Linked DNA regions of Homo sapiens: region 2 is linked to region 1. Evidence: fine-mapped expression QTL. Tissue or cell type: whole blood. Region 1 holds a variant in brackets; the other region holds the start of a gene. All regions are shown on one strand. Distances are between the middles of the regions.

Region 1 (8,103 bases):
GTTCCTGTATGCCCTTTACCCAAGCATCCCCAGATGTTAACATCTTACATAATCACAATACCATGATTAAGAGCAGGAAAATCCATTAGACAGTGCTGCCGGCCAATCTGCAGATCGTACTCAACTTTCTTCAGGTGTCCCCTGATGGCCTTTTTCTGATCCAGGATCTCATTGGATTTAGTTGTCATGTCTCTTTAGTCTCCTTCAATCTGTGACAGTTTCCCCATCTTTTCTTGTGCTTTATGACCTGAGTGCTCTTGACAAATGCCAGCCAGTTTTTGTTTTGTTTTGTTTTGTTTTTTTGTAGACTGCCCCTCACTTTGGATTTGTTTGATGTTCTCTCATTGTTAGATTGAAGCTGTACCTTTTAGGCAGGATCCCCCAGAAGTGGTGCTGTGCCCTCCTCAGTGCGGCATATCAGGAGGCACAGGGTGCCGATGTGTCTCCATGCTTCCGGTGCCCACTGTCTTCACCTGGTTAAGATGATGCCTGGGCCAGGCACAGTGGCTCATGCCTGTAATCCCAATACTTTGGGAGGCCGAGGCGGGCAGATCGCTTGAGCCCTGTAGTTGAAGACCAGCCTGGGCAACATGGCAAAACCCCATCCCTACAAAAAAATTAAAAAATTAGCCAGGCATGATGGTGCATCCCTGTAGTCCCAGCTACTCGGGAGGCTGAGGTGGGAGGATCGCCTGAGCCTTGGGAGGTTGAGGCTGCAGTGAGTCATCACATCACTGCACTCCAGCCTGGGTCACAGTGAGACCCTGTCCCTCCAGCCCCCATCAAAAAGACGATGTCTGCCAAATTTCTCCACTGCACAGTTACTCTTTCCATTTTGTAATTAATAAGCGTTTTCTGGGGGAAGTGCTTTGAAGGTATGTCAATATCCTGTCTTTATCAAAGTTTTGATTTGTTCATTTCTTTATTTCTATGTATGTTTTATCCTTTCTGTTTTATCCAATGGCTTATAATCTGTGATGATTGTTATTTATTTTGATGCTCACATTGTCTATTCTTCGGCCAGTGGGAACCCCAAGTTTTTTTTTTTTTTTTTTTTTTTTTTAAAGACAGGGCCTCACCCTGTAGCCCAGGCTGGAGTGCAAGGCTCACCATAGCATTAAACTCCTGGATTCAAATGATCCTCCCACCTCAGCCTCTTGAGTAGCTAGGACTATAGGCACACACCACCACGCCCAACTTTTGTTGTTGTTTTTTGTTGTTGTTGTTTGTAGAGATGAGGTCTTGTTATGTTGCCCAGGCTTTTCTTGAACTCCTGGCCTCAAGCGATCCCCCCACCTGGGCCTCCCAAACTGCTGGAATTACAAGCATGAGCCACTGACTGTGTCTGGCCTCTTCTTGTCCTTTTGACATGTCCTTTTCATTCTTTGAACACTTTCTTGGTTTCTGACATAAGAAGGTGCTCCAGGCCCATCTTGTATTTTTCCTGCCCAGCCTAGAATCAGCCATTCCAAGGAGCTCTGACTGCTTTAAGTAGAGAATAGTGATTAGAAGCCAAGGTTTGGGTGCTCGTTACACTCACTGCTATTGGGCTGTTGCTGTTGCTGGATCTTCTCTATGGAAAGAGCTAGGAAATGTATGTATATATGATACGTATATATACATGTGCATATTTCAGTGTTTGGGTATATTGAAAATGATTAATTCATACTGATATTTCCATTACCACTATAATACCATGTTTTCACCTCCCTTCCCTGACAGTGAGGCACCTGGCCCCACTATCCTTGTACATGTACATGTTTGACCAGTCTCTCTGTATGTAACAATCTCCTATCTCTCTCTTCCTCACCCTGACTGAACTTAGACACTCTGCCCCGAGCCACTGCTGCCTCCTCACCCAGAGCAGCCTCTGACTTCCAGTTTTGAAACAATGGTTCTTATATTTTTTATTTTTTAATTTTTATTTTATGTATATTTTTGAGATAGGGTCTCACTGTGTGACCCAGGCTGGAGTACATTGGCACCATCTTAGCTCACTGCAGCCTCAACCTCCCAGGCTCAAGTGATCCTCCCACCTCAGCCTCCTGACTAGCTGGGACTACAGGCGCACACCACCATGCCCAGCTAATTTTGTTCATTTTTTTTTGTGGAGATGAGGTCTCTCTATGCTGCCCAGGCTGGTCGCAAACTCCTATTCTCAAGCAGTCCTCCCACCTCAGCCTCCCAAAGTGCTGGGATTACAGGCAAGAGCCATCGTGTACAGCAGTTTCTGTATTTTTTTAAACTGCGAGGCCCAGTTTCTGCTTGTCGGTCCCTGATGGTGACCTGGACAAAAGCTGGGCTGTTAGCCACCTGGGGTATCGAGCCCCAGGACACGGCTGTCATGCTTTAATCTGCATGGGAACTTTTAGATCCCCTGTGCACCCCCTCATTTCATACTCAGAGAAGCTGAGGCCCAGCAAGGGCCAGGGATTTTCTGAAGGTCTAACACGAAGTTGGGGTGGAGTGAGGACGAGACCCCTCCCGCTGCAGCCCTTTCCTGCTGCTCATTTCTCCAGTCTTAGGAGAACCCACATGCCCTCCCCACTGGCCCAGGCTGGCCTTCCTATGACACGAGGCGGACCACATCCTCTTCCAGCTCCGCAAGGCCTCTCCGCTCAAATGGTCACCGCCTAGGCCCCAGGCCTCATGTCATCTGCAGACGCGTCTCATTTGTCCTGTAGAGTGTTGGCCCAGCATTTGAGAATGGTGAACTTCCATGTAAAATTCCACATTTTTGGCTTCTCTTGGACACTCAGAAGGTCTGGCCTCCTGAGCCCGCATCTCTACCTGGCAGGTGTCAGCTGGGGCTCGGTGATGGCCGCCTGCTGGTTTGTTTTCTCTCCATTCCCTCTCCCCACCCCTACCTCCCAAATTTGCTGACCTCTCACAGTCTCCCACAGTAGACCGCCCGCCGGCCCCCATCGACACTTGGTGTGAGACTCCCTAGCCACAGCCTGGCCCTCAGGACCCTCTCCTCCAGCCCCGCCCCAGTTTTCCGTCCTCCTCTCCCTGCACATCGGGCTGTACCCTGTGCCGGAGAGAGGACAGCGCCCAGCTTCCCAGATTCGGTCCTACTCTGTCTTTGCTTCTGCTCCTCTCCTTGCCTGGGCTGCTCTTTCCCTCCACCCATCCATCTTCTCCCCCTCCTGCTCTGTGCACACATCACCCCCTGTAGGAAGCTTCACCGAGGACCCCAGGCCAAGTCAGGTACCCCCTCCTGAGTTAATCCAGCACCTCGTGATGAGGATGCCACTACCTTCTCCTTCCCTTTCTTTGCCTCTACCGCTAAACTACAAACTCACTGGGCCAAGGGTTGATTTTTATCTCCTTGCCTAAGGGCCTAAAAGAGGGGGTGTGTTAGTAGGCACTGCGTAAATGTTTGTCAAACAAGCGTTAATAATAATAGTAACCACAAATATCCACGTGGCATTTCTGGGGTGCCAGGCTCTGCCTAAGTACTTTATATGTGCTCAGTCATTTGAGCCTCACCACCATGCTGTGAGATAGTTACTGTTGTTGCCCCCACTTTATAGACAAAGAAACTGAGGCACAGAGAGGTTAAGTGACGGTCCCAGGGTGGTACAGTAGTGGTCATAGTTGAGCCCAGGCATCTGATTCCACAGCACATGCTCTTACCTCTCACACACCTCTCAGTGTTAAAGCGGCCCCCACTTTCTGACTAAGGGATATGAGTAAATATGGACAGGTGAGTTGCAGAGACCCCCAACCTCCCGACCACACCCCAGCCCCAGCTTCTAGTACCCTCAGGGGCACAAGCACAGGTGACTGGGAGCTAAGCAGGCGGCAGAGAAAGTGGTACCTTTGAACTTGGCAGCCCGCAGGAATTTTTCTCCCCTGAGGTCTTAGGAAACTGAGCATGTTTCACGTGTAATTAGGGTGAGCACACTGATTCAAGCATCGGCCCTTACGCAAGGTTTCCAAGGCATTGCGTCGGGTTTAGCTGGGCATACTCTTGTTTCCCAATCACCAAAGAGGAACCGCACACCAGCCTGTCACCCCCAAGGGCTGGAGCCGCCGGCCTCTCCAGCAAGTCAAGTTCTGTCTGAGAGCTGGGATGCCGTGTGGACTAAGGAGGGTTCTGTCGATCAAACTCTGCTGTGGGAGAACTGTCTGCTACGCAGGTTCAAGTGAAGGAAACGAAGCCAAGTGTGTGGGGAGCCTCCCCTGCGAGCTCTCTGCGTCACATCCTTTACAGACACTTCTTTCCCTCACTCCTTTCCGTGGCCTCACAGGGTCTAGTACTAATGGTCCCATTTTTACAAAGGAGGAAACAGGCTCCGAGAGGTGAAGTCGTTTGCTGAAGGTCACATGGTGAACGAGAGGACCAGCCGAGATTTGAACCAGGGTAGTCTGATTCCAGGGTCTTAACTCTTAAATAGCTGAAGCAGAGCCAGAATTAAACCTGTGTCTGTCTGATTTCCAAAACCCTGAATTCTCCCACTACACCACACGATTTCCCTGTGCTCTGGTGGGATCCATAGGAAAGAAAGACATCTGTCTGCTTCTGTGAGGGAAAGAAATCACACAAGACAGGAACCAGAGCCATCACCAGCTGATGCTAAGACCGTGGGCTCCTGGCAGGACTTTCTGTTAACCTCATGCCTTAGCATTCTTAAGAAGAGTCTCCATGAGGCAGACAGCAGGAGCTGGGGGGTGCAGCCGGAGTGGAAACAGGAGGAGGCAGGAAAGGGAAGAGGGGGAGGAGAGGTGACGTGGAGCAAGAATGCAGCATCGTCACATAACTCGAGCAGGGCTGTGCGTTTCCTTGCTTCCTCTAGCGTCAGAGTCACCCCCGATTCAGGGGTTCCATACATTCCATAATTATCCAGTGCCTACT[C/A]TGCACCAGGCCCATGCTAGGGTTTGGGAACGTGGCAGGGAACAAAACCTAACTAGGCCCCTGCTCTCGCAGAAGTTACACTCTGATGGAAGACCCACCGATGAGTGGGAGGGTCATCTGGTGGTTCACGCCTGTAATCCCAGCACTTTGGGAGGCCAAGGTGGGCAGATCGGTTGAGCTTAGGAGTTCGAGACCAGCCTGGGCAACATGGCAAAACCCCGTCTCTACCAAAAATACAAAAATTAGCCAGGCATGGTGGCACATGCCCGTAGTCCCAGCTACTTGGGAGGCTGAGACACGAGACTCACTTGAACCTGGGAGGCAGAGGTTGCAGTGAGCCAAGATTGCACAACTGCACTCCAGCCTGGGTGACAGAGCGAGACCCTGTTTAAAAAAAAAAAAGAAATGTTATGAAGAAGAGATGACAAGGGGATGTGATCTAAGGGTGTTGTGGGGAGCAGGGGTTCCATCAGAGAAGCATCTTGGAGAAAGTGTCCTGAAAGAGCAGAAAAACTGTGGGAAGAACCATGGTTTGTTGAACCATGTGTCACACAAGCCAGCACCACTGCCTGCTGCCTTGAGACCCACCCTTTGTGCCCACCTCACTCCTGTTCCATTTGCTCTCCACAGGTTTGACATCTACAGGAAGGTGCCCAAGGACCTTACGCAGCCAACGTACACCGGGGCCATTAGTGAGTAGCCAACCTCTGGCCATGCCCTCTGCCCCATCTCCACTGCCTGTGCCTGCTCTCTCTGTGCAGATCATCTGGGCCAGGGAGGAAAGAAGGAAAGACAGGAGGGAGGAAAGAAATGCTGAGCATCTTGCGGGGGCCCTTCAAGCATTTCCTCACTTACTCTCTATCCTCACTGTAACCCCTCAAGGCACAGGCACCATCTGGAAGGACATGAAAGAAATTGTCAAGAGTAGCTGCCAGGCTGGGCGCGGTGGCTCACGCCTGTAATCCCAACACTTTGGGAGGCCAAGGCGGGTGGATCAATTGACATCAGGAGTTCGAGACCAGGCTGACCAACATGCTGAAACCCCGTCTCTATTAAAAATACAAAATTAGCCAGGCATGGTGGTACATGCCTGTAGTCCCATCTACTCGGGAGGCTGAGGCAGGAGAATCGCTTGAAACAGGGAGGTGGAGGTTGCAGTGAGCCGAGATCACACCATTGCACTTCAGCCTGGGCAACAAGAGCGAGACTCCATCTAAAAAAAAACAGTAGCTGCCCCTGGGAGAGGAATTGGGCCCAGGGGTAGGAAGGAGATTTACTTTTCTCTTTATACCTTAAAAATGATTTGAGTTTTCCACCAAAGCATGTTTTTATCCATTAAAAAAAAAAATCACAATCTCATCCAGACTTTGGGTTCTAAAGACCATTCTTCAATAAAAGGAACCATGGCTCCTTGGAGAAATGGCTGATTTCAGGGCTAGGCAGGGTAAAGATAGAGGAGCCTGGAGTGCCTGGTGTCAGCAGGACCTAGGAGCCAACTTGAAAGTCAGCCTGCAGCAGTTTGAGTAATAAAATAAATAATGACATTATTGGCTTAGAAGCCAGAGAATTAAGAAAGAGTTCTGTGGGTCCTAATTGATATCAATAAATGGGGGAGAAGAGACAAATCCATTCAGAAGAATTCCAAATAATATACAGGCTGAGTATCTCTTATCCAAAATGCTTAGGACAAGTGTCTCAGATTTTGGATATCAGATTTTAGAATATTTGCATTATACTTATCAGTTGAGCATCCCACATCCAAAAACCTGAAATCCAAAATGCTTCAGTGAGCATTTCCTTTGAGCAACATGTTGGCACTGAAAACGTTTCAAATTTTGGAGCACTTAGGATTTTGGGTTTTCAGATTTGGGATACTCAACGTGTATGTAGCTATTCTCCCATCCAGGTGGTGGAGTTTAATTCCCCTCTCTTGAGTGTGGACTTAGTAACTCTATTTCAAAGAATAGAGAATGGGAAGGAAAAATAAGGCCTTTACTGAGGAAATATGGCAAGTGCCAGTGAGGAACCAAGTGAGAAAGGTTGGCATGACCAGTGATAAGCCACGTGCATATCGTGAGCCCCTGATAGGATGCATGGAGGCATCTTGCCTCCATGGGATCGTACCAAAAAACCACAGTTCAGTCTAATCATAGGAAAACTCACAATCCCAGGTCAGGGGACATTCTATAGGATACTTGGCCAGTACTCTTCAAACATGGCAAGGCCTTGAAAAACACAAAAGACCGAGGAACTGTCACTGATAAGAGACTAAGGACCCAGGATGAAAATGCAAAGTGGACTCCCAGATCAGTTCCTGGAACAGAAATCTGGAGTTTGTGGGAAAACTGGTGAAGCCCAAATAAAGTCCGTAGCCAAGTTCATGGTACTGTACTAATGTTCAATTCTTCATTTTGACAAATGTAAGATGCTAACATAACGGGAAGCCCAGTGAAGGGCGTATGGGAACTGTCTGTACTACCTTTGCATCTATGATTATTCTACAGTAAAAAGTTTTAAAAACAAACCAAAGCCACCTTGCAAACAGGGGATGCTTTCGCCTCATTTTCCCAATGAGAAAATGAGCTGAGAGAGGTGAGCTGAAATTTCACAGCTCACAGAAGATGGAGCCACGACTCATACTCAGGTGGGCCTCCTTGCACCCCACAAGCCCCCCTAGTGCCTGGTGTGGGAGAGGGAACTGCCCCCCTGATGGTCCCAGCCCTGCTGCCTGAGCAGGGTCCTGGGCCGGGCAGTCGGTCATATTGGAGTCCACTTCTCCCAGGTCAGGCCATTCTCAGTTGGGGGAGGACCTTGGGGATCCGGCTGGGCTTGTTGAAGCTGCAAGATGCCTTTGAGAGCCCTGAGGAAGGGACAGCACAGCCCCGTGGCAGGATGCATGTCACACAGGCTCTGTGTTCGGGCAGAGCAAGGTTCATCCTCCCATTTAGCAGCAGTGTGACTGAGCAAGTCACTCCCCTCTCTGAGCCTCAGTTTCCTGATCTGGGGATTAAATGTGTCCCGGGATGTGTCTTGTGCAGGGCACGTACTAACCCCTCAGTGCATGGATGACTCTCCTTTTCTTCTCACTGTCCTCCCGGAGCCTGCAACACATGAGGGCCTGTGGCCTGAGAAGCTGTGCAGCTTTGTGCCTTGACTCCCGAGGAAAGGATATGGAGGGGACCATGAGAGGAAAGAGCCTTGGTAGTTTATGAACCTGATCCAAAAAAATCAAATGAGGCTTC
Region 2 (8,102 bases), 53 kb before region 1:
CTGGAGTGCAGTGGCTCCATCTCTGCTCACTGCAACCTCTGCTTCTCAGGTTCAAGCAATTCTCCTGCCTCAGCCTCCTGAGTAGCTGGGATTACAGGCATGCGCCACCATGCCTAGCTAATTGTTTTTGTTTTTAGTAGAGACGGGGTTTCAGCATGTTGGTCAGGCTGGTCTCAAACTCCTGACCTCGTGATCCACCTGCCTCTGCCTCCCAAAGTGCTGGGATTACAGGCGTAAGCCACCACGCCCGGCCCCTAAGACAGTTTTTCTTCTTCCAGCGTGGCCCAGGGAAGCTAAAAGATTGGACACCCCTGCCTTAGAAGAATCACTTGCAAACTCACCCACAGGGGCTTTTCCTTAGGGCACAGAAGCCACACACAGAAGCCAGCTTATCCAGGGTGACTGATCCAAGAGATAGCAAGAGAGTGTCCAAGACAGAAGTCACCATCTCTTGATAACCTAATCTCAGAAGCAACATGCTCATCACTTCTGCCATATTTTGTGCATTAGAAATGAGTCCATAAGTCCAGCCTACACTTGAAGGGAGGAAATTACACAAGGGTATGAATACCAAGAGGTGGGTTAATTGGGACAATTTCAGAGGCTACCTGCCACAGGTAAGGTATTATTATCCTTCATTTCATACCTAGACACCCAGCTAGTTAAGCAACTGGTCCAGGTCACCCAGCAGAGAGTGATCTGAGTCCAAAGTGGTTTTCTATTTCCCCAGGCTGGCGGGGGGTGAGATGGAGGAAGGCAGGGAGAAGTTACTGGTAGGAAAAAAAAATAATGAGGATGGAGTCTCTGTTATTTATCTACTGCTGTGTAACTAATTACCCACAACTTAATGGCTTAAAGCAAACATTTATTATCTTATAGTTTCTATGGATCAGGAATTCGGGAGCAGCTGAGCTGGGTGTTTCTCAGGGTCTCTCAAGAACCTGTGGTTAAGCTGTGGGCTGGGGATGCAGCTTTGAAGCCCTGACCGGGGCTGAGCCGCTACTTCCAAGAGAGCCCACTCACATGGCTGTTGGTGGGAGGCCTCATTCCTCACCGACCAGGCCCCTTTATAATCGTGCTTGAGCCTCTTTAGGACAGGCAGTTGGCTTCCCTCAGAACGAGTGATTCAAGAGTGGCTAAGCAGAGCCTCAGTCTTTTGTGACGTAGCCACAGGAGTCATAACTGTCGTTTCTGCAATATCCTGTTGATTACACAGGATAGGTCAGCCCTATTCATTGTGGGAGGTGATTCTAGAAGGGCATGGGAATACCAGGAGATCAGGGTCACTGGAGGCTGGCTACCTACCACAGGCTTCCACAAGATTGATAATCCGAAAACTTAACTTGTATTGTTGTTCCCTGCTCAAAGAGACCCAGAGCCTTCCCACGTACTGCAGACACAATCTGATTTTCTTAGCTCCATCTCCCACTGGCTCTTGAGTGGATGGACCATCTGGGACTGACAGCCTGGTCTGCTCACAGACCTCACCAGTCCCACAGCGGAGGCCCATGTTGATACCTCCCCTCCCATCCGCTGTTCTGTTGGTAAGGCCTGCCTCCGTGGGAAGGCCTGCCTCCCTGGGAAGCCTCTATTCAAACTTCAACGCATAGTTAGTGCATCCCCAGCATGTGCAGGGTCTGGCTGGATGCTAGGATATGATGGTGATACCACCTTGTCTCAGGGAACTTTCCTTTTTTTTTTTAAATTATACTTTAGGTTCTGGGATACATGTGCAGAACGTGCAGTTTTGTCACACAGGCATACACGTGCCATTTGTGTATGGCATCATTGTTTGTGTACCCATCAACCCGTCATCTACATTAGGTATTTCTCCTAATGCTATCCCTCCCCTAGCCCCCTACCCCCCGACAGGCCCCTCTCAGGGAACTTTCACTCAGATGGGGTAGTAGTTACTAGCGAATTAATAATAACCTAATCACACGTCATGCCCAGTTCTCCCAAGGAAACCTACAAGGTACCATGCGATTATGTAATAGGGGACTGGCCTAGTCCATGAGCATTGGGGCAGTCAAGTAGCTAGCCAGGCTGCATAGGTGTATCAGCATTGGGTTTAGGTGTAAGTGTCTGAAAATACAGAATAACAATAGCTTAAATAAGATAGATGTTTGTTTCTCTTGGGCAGGTGTTTGAGGACAGGTATTTTGCCACTTAGAGACAGGAACTCAGGTTTTTTTTTTTTTTTTTTGAGACAGAGTCTCACTCTGTCGCACAGGCTGGAGGGCAGTGGTGTGATCTGGGCTCACTGCAACCTCTGCCTCCCAGGTTCAGGCGATTCTCCTGCCTCAGCCTCCTGAGTAGCTGGGATTACAGGCGTGTGGCACCACGCCCGGCTAATTTTTGTATTTTTAGTAGAGACAGGGTTTCACCACATGTTGGTCAGGCTGGTCTCGAACTCCTGACCTCAGGTGATCCGCCCACCTCGGCCTCCCAAAGTGCTGCAATTACAGGTGTGAGCCACTGTGCCCGGCAGGAACTTAGGCTCTTTTTGTCTTGTTGCTCTGCTCTGTGGTGGCCTCCACCTTATGGTCCAGGATGGTGACGCCTACATTCCTGGCAGCCAGATGGAGAAAGGGACACAGAGGGTAAAGCAGACATACCAACTATCCCAGATGCCCCACAAGACACTTCCCTTTACTTCTCAATGCCACATCTAGCTACAAAGGAAGCTGGGGAAATGCAACTTTCACTGTGAGCACCCACATGCCCAGCCAAAAGTTGGGAGCTCTATCCCCACTCGAAAAGAGCAATGATAGTCAACCCTGTCTTGCATTTACTCTGTGCCAGGCATTTGCTGACCTTGGATATCATCCCAAATGCACACTTGATTCAGTAGGTCTGGCCTGGGGACAAGAGTCTGTCCTGTGATGGCCATGTGGCTGGTCTGTGGACCACAGTTTGAGGAGGGAGGATTCGAGGTCAAAGATCCATCATTGCATGTTTCCTCCCACACAGGGCCAACGAATGGCTGTTTGGAAGCAGTGGCTGCTCAAGATCCCTTAACTCTCCCTGCTGTCCCTAGGTTTCCAGTTCAGGCTGAGATTTCCTTTTCTCCCCCAACAGTGTCAGACCACTGACACTGAATGAATGAATGAATGAATGAGTGAATGAATGAAAAGGGAACGCAGAGGTCAGGTCCCGGCATATGCTCTAGGGGAAGGCTTTGGTTCACCACGTCACCCTACCCCAGACCCCGTGCTAGTGTTGTCCCTTCTGAATCCTCCCGGAGGAACCAGCACTGCTGTTCCCCTCTATTTACACAGGGGGAAACTGTCCATTGACTCTGCTTTTGGAACCCGAGCCCTCACCATTCTCCCCTGGGTTTTTTGAAGCCCTGTCCCACCACAACCTTGGAGAAAGGGCCAGTGACAGAACCTCGGGGAAGTTCAGAGTGAGTTTCCCCTACTCAGGTCTTGTGTGACCTCAACTACCATCTCCTCTAATCCAGCAGTCACGGAGGCAGCTGCTCTGTATTCCTGAGGAGGAAACTGAGGCTCTAAGAAGGAGACAATCGGCACAGTCCACGTTGGCCAAGTCACAGTGCAGGTCCCATCTGCCTCTGCCACAACCCTGCATGTTCTCGATGGACCTGGTTCAGAGCAGATGCTCTGTGAATGCCCACTGGAGTGAACGACAGGGGCAGATGGAAGCAGGGACAGCCACTGCCAGCCTCAATAGTTTCAGGTGCCTGGCACTGTGCTAAGCCAGTCTCCTGTTTCTCAGCTGATCCCCAGGAAAACCCCCTCAAGTAGGTGTCATCGTCCTCTTTGTGCAGATATGCAAAAGGGGCGGGGCGGGGGGGGGGCGCTCTGAGAAGCCCAGTGGCTTTCCCAGAGAGACACGGCAGGGGCAGAGGTGAGTCCACCTTAACAGCCTAGGATGGCCGACCTCTTCCCTTCCCCCACAGTATTAGGCCCTCACTCAGAGCTAGACGCTGTGCACGGCCAAAGTCTGTATCACCCCGCCCCCCGCCCCCAACTCAATCACAGTTCAGTGAAACTGTTTACAAATGCAAAAAACTGGGCTCGGAGAAGCAGAGAATTTGTCCGAGGGCATCCAAAGAGATGGAGAAGGAAATCTAAGTGGGAGGCTTGAAGGAATGAGTACTGGAGTCTTTGGGGGACTCCCTTCCCTTCCGACAGCCTCGACTCTCCGCCCCTTCCCTGCCTGCCCGCGGGCCCCTTTAACCGGGTGGCGGAAGGGGCGGCCGGGCGGGCGGCGCCCAATGGGCTGCGCGGAGCGTCACTTCCCGGCAGCGGGAGGCGAGTGGCGAGTGGCGAGTGGCGAGTGTCAGGGGGGCGGCCGGCGGGGGCGGGGCGGCCGGAGGAGGCGTTGGCAGCGGGCTCGGACCCACGCGGCGCCGCGGCCCGCCTGGCCTGCAGCGCTCCCACCCCCGGCGGCGGCACGATGCCCTTTGACTTCAGGAGGTGAGTGTGGCGACCCCGGCCAGTCGGGAGTTCCCTCAGCGGGCAGAGGGAGCGCCCCGGCACGCCGCGGACCCCTCCCGCCCTGCATGCAAAAGCGGCTCCCCGCCCTGTGCATGCCTCCGCAGGCCCCTAGGGACCCCAGGCGAGCCCCCCCCCTGCCGCACACGAAGCCAGCCAGAGCCGCGGAGGCCCCCTCGTGCAGCGGGAGACAAATCCACCCACCTTCCCTCCGCCGAGCCCCCTCCCCAGCCTGCCCGGATACCTTGCATTCCCCTCCCCCACACTAGGAAACATTTCCTCCCTCCTCCCAGATGGGAACAGCCCATAACACCCCAGCATCCCTCTCCTCCCTCTACTGAGCCTCCTTGGTGGACCCCACCTCAGCTGACAGGTGGGGCAGGGCACCTGGAATGAGTCCGGAGGGGCCTGGGGCCCCATGCAGCCTGCCGGCAGCTGGAGGGTTTTAAGTTTCTATAGCCTGAGGCTCCCCCAGGCCGGGCAGATCGGGAGGCCTGCCCCCGCCCCTCCCTCCCTCAGCCCCAGCCCTGTCCGCTGGGTATGGGGGCACCATGGGAAGGGGAGGAGGCGCCTTGGGCAGGACTCTGCAGAAGGGCCACCGGGGTCTGGCCTTGGCTTTCTGCAGTCACCACAATGGGTCCTTTGTGGGGTCCAGCTGCCTCATGGTCTAGGTTGCATGGGGCATTCTGGAAGCCTGCGGGGGAAGAGATCTCCACCAGAGGTTCCCTTGAGGTGTGGAGCCCCAGGGGATGTCCTGGCCTGAGGCAGCCACACTTGGTGTCTGGCTGGGAAAAGAGCAGGGCTTTAATGCAGGGAGGAGCTGGATTAGAATCCTGGCTCTGCCCTTTCTACTGAACAGCTCGGTATATTCTAGAAGTTAGGGGCAAAGGCTCTGGGTTCAGAACTCCCTGTCGCCGCTCGGCTGGCTGACCTCAGCAAGTCTCCGAGCGCCCTCAGTTTCACCACCTGCAAATTGGGGCTAAAAATAAGGTCTCCGCTTGTGACGACTGAGTGCGTGAAACACCCTTAGCAGAGTCTGGCATGATTTAGAGCTCAGAAATAGGGCATTAGTGGATGGGGGGTGTTCTCCAGGAGGGGTTTTCCACATCCACAAAATAGTGATTCAGATGCCTGTGCCACAGGAGGTATTTCTTCCCCTCTTCTTGCATGTGAAGGCAGTGTAAAGTGACAGTCTACCCAGAGAGAAAGGCCCTTAGCCTGCCATGACCCCCATAGCATGGGATATATTGGGGTTTAGGCCCAAAGAGGACACTGGTCTTGGACCTCTTGATTGGTTGACATGGTTTTCCAGCCTGTCCGGGTCCCTGATACCAGCTAGCAAATGTTTGCCGGCTTCTTGCCCCTGCCGGGCAGCCCTGAGGCTAGCAGACCTAGGCAGTTTTGAACAAGGACAGCCCCTCTGGTGGAATTCAAGGTCAGTCCTAATAGCATCAGTTAAGTCTGGGCCATAAGAGCTGTGGTCGGCACATCAATTTCTGGTTCCACAAAGCCTCCCCTTACCCAGGCCAACCATAGGGATTCGTGCCACCGCCGCCCCCTGCCCCTGTGTGATTCAGTAGGTTCCGGTGATTTTGAGCTTGCTGGGGAAATTGCTGTTTTTGATCTTTTAATCCTTTCTCCCTGCACCTCACCCTTCCGTCTTACCAAGGAGGAAATGAGGCTCCAGGGATGAGGGCCTTATCTTGGACTTTATGGGTGCTAAATGGGAAGGGTAGACTTAGGTCTCAGGTCACACATGGCTCCCAACCTTGTGCTCCTTGAATTGGTGGCTTGTGGGGGCAGGTAAGGGAAGTAAGGAAAATGGGTAAGGCCAGCTCTAGCCTTTGGCCTTGGAAGGGCCCTGTGTCAGGCATTGATATTTAAAGAGAGAAATGCTCAGCTCTGAGAAGCTGGCTAGTCTGGGGCTCCCTTGGCATACTTCAGGTCCCTGAGTGCCCAGGTGTCAGGGGGCCCAGCTTAACTAGGAAATACTCTCAGGGCTTGGGCTCACTGCGGAATGGTGAGAATGGATTCAGTGCTTCACGTTTGCACCTTGGAGGATGAGCCATGTGTGCCCAGCAAACCTGCACTCTTTAAGCTCTGTGAACTTCAAGGCTCCAGGACCTGGGTTCTACTGAGGGTTCGACCATCCCCATGCACCTTCCTCCGCTTCAGTGTGCATTCATCAAGCATTCATCAAGTGTCCAGTCCATGCTCAGCCCTCTGCCACAGGCCCCACCGTGAGGAGGTGGGTGGCATGTGGTCCGGCTCTCTTTGCATTCCAAGAGAAGGGAGGAGGGCTTATGGGGTCCCAGGAGTGGGGGTGTGCGTGAACTGGCACGCAAGGAGCATCTACCACTGTATACACACTTTGGGGTGCAGACATCGATTCCCTTGTCACCTGAGAGAGGGAGTTTTAATCTTCATTTTAAATCAAAGGAGAGGGGAGCTCCACTGAGTAGAAGCCCTTTGCTCTGGCCATGCAGTGCATGAGCTGGTGGATCTGGGATTTGAACTTGGGGCTGTTAGCTCCAAAGCCTTAGATCTGGGAGAAAAGGGAGAGATTGGAGGGGCCCACCATCCTGTCAGCTCTTTTAAGAATTGTGGGGAGTGGAGAGGGGTATACCGTGATTAGACCTCCTCCCCCAGTTCAAGGCCAGGGAGAAAACCAGCCGTCCTGCTCGTGTTCCCCTTCTTAAAATCAGAAGCAGGAAAAATAGTGCACTCTTGCCCTTCCCTACGGATACTTCTGATTTTCTTACTGCCTGTAGAGCCTGGTGCAACTGAGTTCTGTGTTTTCCTGTCTGTGAAATGGGAATGAGGAGAGTACTCACCGAAGTAGAACAGTTGAGGGATGAGGCAGTGCGGAAAGCATTTAGACACAGAGTAAGCGCCTCATCCATTTTGGCCGCCATATTTATTTGTGTCATTTTATTTAAGCACCCATCATCTCCTAACACATTATATAATTCACTTAATTATCATGCTGCTTCTCTCTCCCTCCCATTAGTACATGAGCTCCTGAGGGCAAGAAGTTTTTATCAGGCTTCTTCAAGGTTGCATCTCCAGCACCTAGAACTGTGCTTGAGCCAAACTCGATCCTTGGAGATGCCTCTTGAAATCTGTCAAGGAAGCCATAGACATGACGTGACTTGATATGCCAGCTTCAGTGGGCAGATTTTCAGCCATTAGTGGAGAAATCTCCCCTCTCCACCCTTGAATCTGCCGTTCCTAGGTTGTTTTTGGGGTTAAGGAAGGAGGCAGAACGCAGGGGAGGGAGGCTGAGCTTTCAATGATTTATTGTGTTTGCTTTGCTCTTGTTAAATTGTTTCACTAATGGCTGGCTGTTGCAGTTGTGGAACTAGCCTTGTGACCCACATCCGTGTGTGTTGTTTCGAGTTCCGGCTGGCCTGGGGCCAGTAGCACCTGCTGCCTTCTGCACACCAGCCCAGGGTGGGTGAGGAGGGAAGATAACAGCATCCGGAAGCCCTGTGCCCAGGCCCAGTGGTGCCTGAGCACTGCCTTCCGGGAGGTGCAGGTGGCTGCTGTCCCACAGTGACAGCCCCCATGTTGAAAACCCAAGGCCTCGGGGGTGCCGCTGCACTGGCACTGACCAGATGTGCTCTGGGACCATTGACT

Evidence for each region. PIP is the estimated chance that this variant, and not a neighbour inherited with it, causes the effect.
Region 2: it holds the start of ERGIC1, and the variant in region 1 is fine-mapped to the expression of ERGIC1 in whole blood (TOPMed, PIP above 0.99).

The regions. Positions count from the first base shown.
Region 1 is chr5:172,883,208-172,891,310 of GRCh38, forward strand. It overlaps ERGIC1 (endoplasmic reticulum-golgi intermediate compartment 1), which reads left to right. Exons shown (of 10, transcript NM_001031711.3): 2 at 5,492-5,553. Among named protein-coding and RNA genes, the nearest start is that of MIR10523, 28 kb to the right of the region's middle. The variant C/A (reference allele first, on the strand shown) is at 4,862.
Region 2 is chr5:172,829,989-172,838,090 of GRCh38, forward strand. ERGIC1 (endoplasmic reticulum-golgi intermediate compartment 1) reads left to right here and starts at 4,263. Exons shown (of 10, transcript NM_001031711.3): 1 at 4,263-4,445. The coding sequence starts at 4,426. LOC124901135 (a long non-coding RNA gene) reads right to left here. Exons shown (of 2, transcript XR_007059054.1): 2 at 7,362-7,585. RefSeq lists silencers at 4,116-4,515, 4,886-4,935, 4,946-5,025 and enhancers at 5,009-6,001, 5,496-5,705, 6,002-6,993.